Linked DNA regions of Homo sapiens: region 1 is linked to region 2. Evidence: fine-mapped expression QTL. A gene starts in region 2. The other region holds a variant in brackets. All regions are shown on one strand. Distances are between the middles of the regions.

Region 1 (2,903 bases), 80 kb after region 2:
CTGATGGGGACTCATGGGGACTCATGGGGTCTGCTGGGGACTGATGGAGTCTGATGGGTCTGATGGGGTCTGATGAGGGTGATGGGGTCTGATGGGGACTGATTGGGACTAATGGGGTGTGATGGCATCTGGTGGTGACTGATGGGGTCTGTTGGGGTCTGATGGAGTCTGATGGGGATGAAGGGGTCCGATGGGGACTAATGGGGTGTGATGGGGATGATCGGCACTGGTGGGCTGGCCCATGGGCTGCGGCCACATTTCCATGCTGAAGAGCCTGATGTGGTCTGATTTATTTTTTTAAAAAGTATTTCCCCAGTTATTCTGTAGCTTGCTGTCTGACAAGAGTGGAGGCAGGGGCCAGTGAGAAGGGTTAGAGAGGACAGTGGCCTGGAGGAGGAGCAGATGGAGAGGAGGGGTCGCCTCTGGATTCTTTGCTGAGGTGGGTGCAGCAGGAGCTGCTTCTGGGGTGGATTCGTCCAGATTTGTTAATTGCCTTCATTCTTCTCTACTTCATCTGCCTCAGGAAAGAAGGGAGTACGCATCTGGAAGGCTTAATTCAGACTATTTTTACTGTTGAAAAATAATGACATTGTCTAGGTTAGAATTTAGGAGCAGTAATATAAAGATTCGTGAGATGAAAGTTGTACGTCCAGAGAAACCTACTTACACCTGGAATAGCGTTACTGGATTTAGCAAATAAAAATGCAAATACAGGACACCCAGAGTGAGACATACTTTTACTAATATAGAGGAAGAAGTCAAAGCAAAACAAAACACTTCCTCTAATCTATTGCTTGAGGGACCTGGGAATTCCTTGGACCTGGGAATCAACGTGATCAGGCAGATTAACAAGAGAAAAAGACAATTTTAATTATGTAAGTATTCACAGTGGCTGGCCAAAAAAAAAAAAAAGTGGCCGAAGCAGGTGGCCAGAATCTTTCCCCTGATCCAGGAGAGAATTCACTGGGTCTGGTGCCTTCTTAAGTCTGAAAAGAAAGATTTGCAATCTATTGTCTCTGAAGCCTGATACCTGGAGGCTTCATCTGCATAATAAGAACCTTGGTCTCCACAAGCTCTTTTTTTTTTTTTTTTTTTTTGAGACAGAGTCTCGCTCTGTCGCCCCAGGCTGGAGTACAGTGGCTCAATCTCCGCTCGCTGCAAGCTCCACCTCCCGGGTTCACGCCATTCTCCTGCCTCAGCCTCCTCAGTAGCTGGGACTACAGGTGCCCGCCACCATGCCCGGCTAATTTTTTGTATTTTTAGTAGAGACGGGGTTTCACCGTGTTAGCCAGGATGGTCTCCATCTCCTGACCTCGTGATCCGCCTGCCTCGGCCTCCCAAAGTGCTGGGATTACAGGCGTGAGCCACCGCGCCCGGCCATGCTCTTATCTTAACCCAGACACACCTCTTTGTATTGATTCCAGGTCTTTTTTTTTTTTTTTTT[T/TC]TTTTCTGAGATGGAGTCTCACTCTGTCGCCAGGCCGGAATGCAGTGGCGTGATCTCGGCTCACTGCAACCTCTGCCTCCTGGGTTCAAGCGATTCTCCTGCCTCAGCCTCCCGAGTAGCTGGGATTACAGGCGTGCACCACCAGGCCCAGCTAATTTTTGTATTTTTAGTAGAGACAGGGTTTCACCATGTTGGCCAGGCTGGTCTGGATTTCCTGACCTCGTGATCTGCCCCCCTCGGCCTCCCAAAGTGCTGGGATTACAGGTGTGAGCCACTGCGCCCGGCCAATTCCTGGCCTTTAGATAAACTCTTTCAAACGACTGACAATCTGAAAATCACCTATGACCTGAAGCCCACCCCCGCGTCCTTCAAGTTGTCCCGCCTTTCCAGACCGCAGTGTTCACCTTACATGTATTGAATGATGTCTCCTGTCTCCCTAAAATGTAGAAAACCACGCTGTAGCCTGTGTCCTCAGGATCTCCTGAGGCTGCGTCAGGGTTCAGGCTAGACAACGGATAAGGGGGTTTGGGCTTTTGGAGGGCAGGTAAGAAACGGGAAGGTGACCAGGAAGTGTGTAGTGAACAAGGTTGTTTAGTAAATGTGTTACGTAGGCCAGGCACAGTAGCTCACACCTGTGATCTGTGAAAGGAAATTAAATCTTGAGACCCCAAACTCATTTAGCCAAAGGAAAAAGTCAAGTTGGGGACTGGATCATGCAAACTTGCCTCCCCTTTTGGTTTCTAAATAAGATGGCTGCAAGATGAGAAGCTCCATACCTCCCTAATATTTTGCCCACAAGGAAATTTTTACTGAGCTCCGAGATCTTTACTCTAAGGTGTTTCCATAAAGATTTCACTATGGCAATGTAAACTGATTCCTCATCTTTACAGGTGCAGTCACCCATGGCCCATCAGACACAAATGCATACCCAATTGTTTCCCTGCCCCATTTTGTCTGTGTGATCTTATGTAAAAATACAGATTCACTGAGGCAGACAGAGGCATGAATGACTCTTTTCCCCTACCCTCTTCTTTTTTTTTTTTGAGACAGTCCCGCTCTGTCACGTAGGCTGGACAGCAGTGGCACGATCTCTGCTCACTGCAAGCTCTGCCTCCCAGGTTCACGCCATTCTACTGCCTCAGCCTCCCGAGTAGCTGGGACTACAGGTGCCCACCACCACGCCTGGCTAATTTTTTGTATTTTTAATAGAGACGGGGTTTTGCTGTGTTAGCCAGGATGGTCTCGATCTCCTGACCTTGTGATCTGCCCACCTCGGCCTCCCAAAGTGCTGGGATTACAGGCATGAGAGCCACCGCGTCCGGCAAACTTGTGCTGATTCATCAGGGACCACCCCAAACAGAATGATGGCGTTTTGCTCCTACCTGGGCGTGTTTGTGTGTGCCCAAGTCTGTGTTTGTGTCGGAAAGCTGATGTCAAGGTCAAACACATGATCAATGTT
Region 2 (2,903 bases):
ATTAAATAGTATTTTAACAAAAGGCCATAAATCCTATATGATGACAAGCCAAAAAACAGAGCATCTTCAGACTTCTAAAATGCAGGAGCCAGGCGCCGTGGCTCAGGGCTGTAATCTCAGCACTTTGGGAGGCCGAGGCGGGTGGATTGCTTGAGGTCAGGAGTTCGAGACCAGCCTGGCCAACTGGTGAAACCCCGTCTCTACTCAACATACAAAATCAGCCGGGCGTGGTGGCGCACGCCTGTAATCCCAGCTACTTGGGAGGCTGAGGCAAGAGAATCGCTTGAACCCGGGAGGCGGAGGTTACAGCGAGCCGAGATCGCGCCACTGCACTCCAGCCTGGGCGACAGAGCGAGACTCCGTCTCAAAAAAAAAAACAAAGTGCTCGACAGGAACTTTCTGTAAGCCAAAGAGTATCGCCATCGCACCTTCACCTTCACCTTGGGCAGCCTGGTGCCGTCTTCCCTCAGCCCGCGATTAACGAGCGGAAGGCCGCACTGACCCATTTCAGATCCCTTATTTCCTTCCTAAAACCACTCAAGAGTTTGGGCACAGTGGCCTCCCTGTGTGAGGAACTTGCTTCCCACTCACCAAAAGACAAACCCTTCGCCCATCCCTGGCCGCGCACCCGGCCGGTCACCCGCGCTGCCACCCACACCACCCTCCTGTCCATAAAGAGCCCGCGTTTGGGACGCCTCGCAGGCTGAAGGGAGGCCTGGGCGTCCGCGATCCGTCTGCCCTTTCTCCCCTCGCGGGCTTCCTCTTTCCTCACTTTCTCCCGCCACTACTCTTCCTCTTCCTTTTCCGCGAACCCAGCCCACTTCCCGTTTCAGGACCTCGGCTCGGCCCCAGTCCCCCGGACCAGGCCGGGTCACGTGGGTCCAGGGTCACGTGCCGCTGCGGGTCACGTGCCGCTGCGGGTCACGTGTCGGCCTGCATCACGCGTGAGGGGGCGCGCGGTGCTGGAAGCTGCCGCACCTGCGGGGAGCCGAGCCGCCGGCGCTCGACGCGCGCGCTCTCGCGAGACCCGCGGGATCACGTGACGCCCGGGCGCGGCGCAGCTCACGTGACAAGCGCTGCCGGCCGCGGTGTCTTCTTCGTGCCGGCGTCGCAGTGGCCGGGCCTCTTGCGTCTGGTAACGCCGCTGTCTCTAACGCCAGCCCTTGGCGCCCGCGCCCCGCCACCGCAGCGCCCGGCAGTCCGCGGCCCAACCGCCGCCCGCGCCCCCGCTCCCCGCACCGTACCCGGCCGCCTCGCGCCATGGCGGCCCCCGGCAGCGCCCGGCGACCCCTGCTGCTGCTACTGCTGTTGCTGCTGCTCGGTGAGGGGGTCGAGGCGGGGCCTGGGAGCGGCGGGACCGGGCGGAGCCGAGGTCCCTGGGTCTTGAGGGCGGGGGACTGCCGGGTCGTTGTCCCGCGGGTCGCCCCGCACCCACTGCTCCTGGTCCCGGCCGGCTCTGCCCGCGGGCGGGTGTTTCTCTCGGGGTCGTAGGGTCGGAGCGGAGCTCAATGGCAGGTGCTTGGGGGACCAGGAGGTCTCATCCCAGGACCTGGCTCCTCTAAGGTCTGTCTCACTGAACTCAGTTTTTCTGTGGTGGTGAGTGCGAAAGGGAACTTCCGATGGCTTGCTCGGCGGTCTGGTGCTTTCAGGTCGTTAAGTTTCCTGGCAAGTTGAGGCGGTGAGATCTAGACGAGGCTGCGCCGCCGAAGGTGGCAGGGACGTCTGTGGTCTCAGCTCCCGGGTGGGTGACCTAGATCAAGCTCTTCCCAACATGGATTTCACCCAGGACAGGGAGAAGCCGGTGCGAGCATTCCCCACCTTTGTACTTGAACCTTTCTCCTCTTTCAGCGGTGTGGAGGAGATGCGAGTGTATTTATGTTATTGTGAATTCACATGTATGTTAAAATAATTTTTAAAGTTATCTTTGGGATTTCACAAGATTCCGTAGTAGACAAGATGAGGGAAAGCTGGCCTCAGACTCACGGTGGCAATGTTCATGTCTAGTAAGTAGTTTAAAGAGCGCCGTTCCTGTAGGCCGAAATGCGGGACCAGGGAACACGTGGGGAAGCACCCTTCTCTTCTGTCAGTTTATAGAGCTCAGATGGGCAGTAGGTGCTCAATATTGTATTGACTAGTGAATTTCGTTCTCATTTATTGTCTTAATAAGAGGATGTGTGCTGTCTCTTTAAGACAGTCCGGATTGCCCCCCGCCAACACTATTCTTTCACCTCCTCCCCCCGCCGCCCTCCCCCGTAATATGAGAAGATTATCTTAAATGCCAGGATCTGAAAGGTGATGTAGAATCAAGCTGGGGGAGTGTGTGTGAGTTAAGTAGATATAGAAATACACTCCTGTACACATCTGCCTTGACTTCTTTAAATCCCTCAGTCCCATCCAGCTGTAAAACTCTGTTACTGTGAGTGAATGGATCTTGGCTTCCCTTTTTTGTTTTGCCTGTTGTGTAAAATGAATTCTTTGAACTGCCTGAATAGCCACAGAGATGAACTTATTCCAATAGTAAGCCTGAAGCCTTGCTCAGCTCCTGCGACAGGGTCAGGTGTAGTTAATGAAAGGAGTTGCAGAAACAAGTTTTGTCATGTCACAGCAACTGCATTGTTCTTTGTTACAGATGCTCACAAGCCTCATAACTTTGATGTTTTGTTTCATGTTTTAAAAACTCACTTCAGGCCGGGAGCAGTGGCTCACGCCTTTAATCCCAACACTTTGGGTGGCCGAGGCAGATGGATCATGGCGTCAGGAGTTCGAGACCAGCCTGGCCAATATGGCGAAACCCGGTCTCTACAAAAATACAAAAATTAGCTGGGCATGGTGGCGCACGCCTGTAATCCCAGCTACTTGGTAGGCTGAGGCAGAAGAATTGCTTGAACCCGGGAAGCAGAGGT

What was found. PIP is the estimated chance that this variant, and not a neighbour inherited with it, causes the effect. A credible set is the group of variants that fine-mapping cannot tell apart.
Region 1: its variant is the best candidate, but not a certain one, in a credible set for the expression of LAMP1 in monocytes after R848 (Quach 2016, PIP 0.88).

Annotation. Positions count from the first base shown.
Region 1 is chr13:113,376,073-113,378,975 of GRCh38, forward strand. It overlaps LOC124903218 (a long non-coding RNA gene), which reads right to left. Exons shown (of 2, transcript XR_007063881.1): 1 at 2,827-2,903; 2 at 273-570. Among named protein-coding and RNA genes, the nearest start is that of GRTP1, 13 kb to the left of the region's middle. RefSeq lists an enhancer at 2,582-2,903. The variant T/TC (reference allele first, on the strand shown) is at 1,445.
Region 2 is chr13:113,296,175-113,299,077 of GRCh38, forward strand. It overlaps LAMP1 (lysosomal associated membrane protein 1), which reads left to right and starts at 1,065. Exons shown (of 9, transcript NM_005561.4): 1 at 1,065-1,321. The coding sequence starts at 1,261. RefSeq lists a silencer at 1,196-1,475 and an enhancer at 1,706-1,885.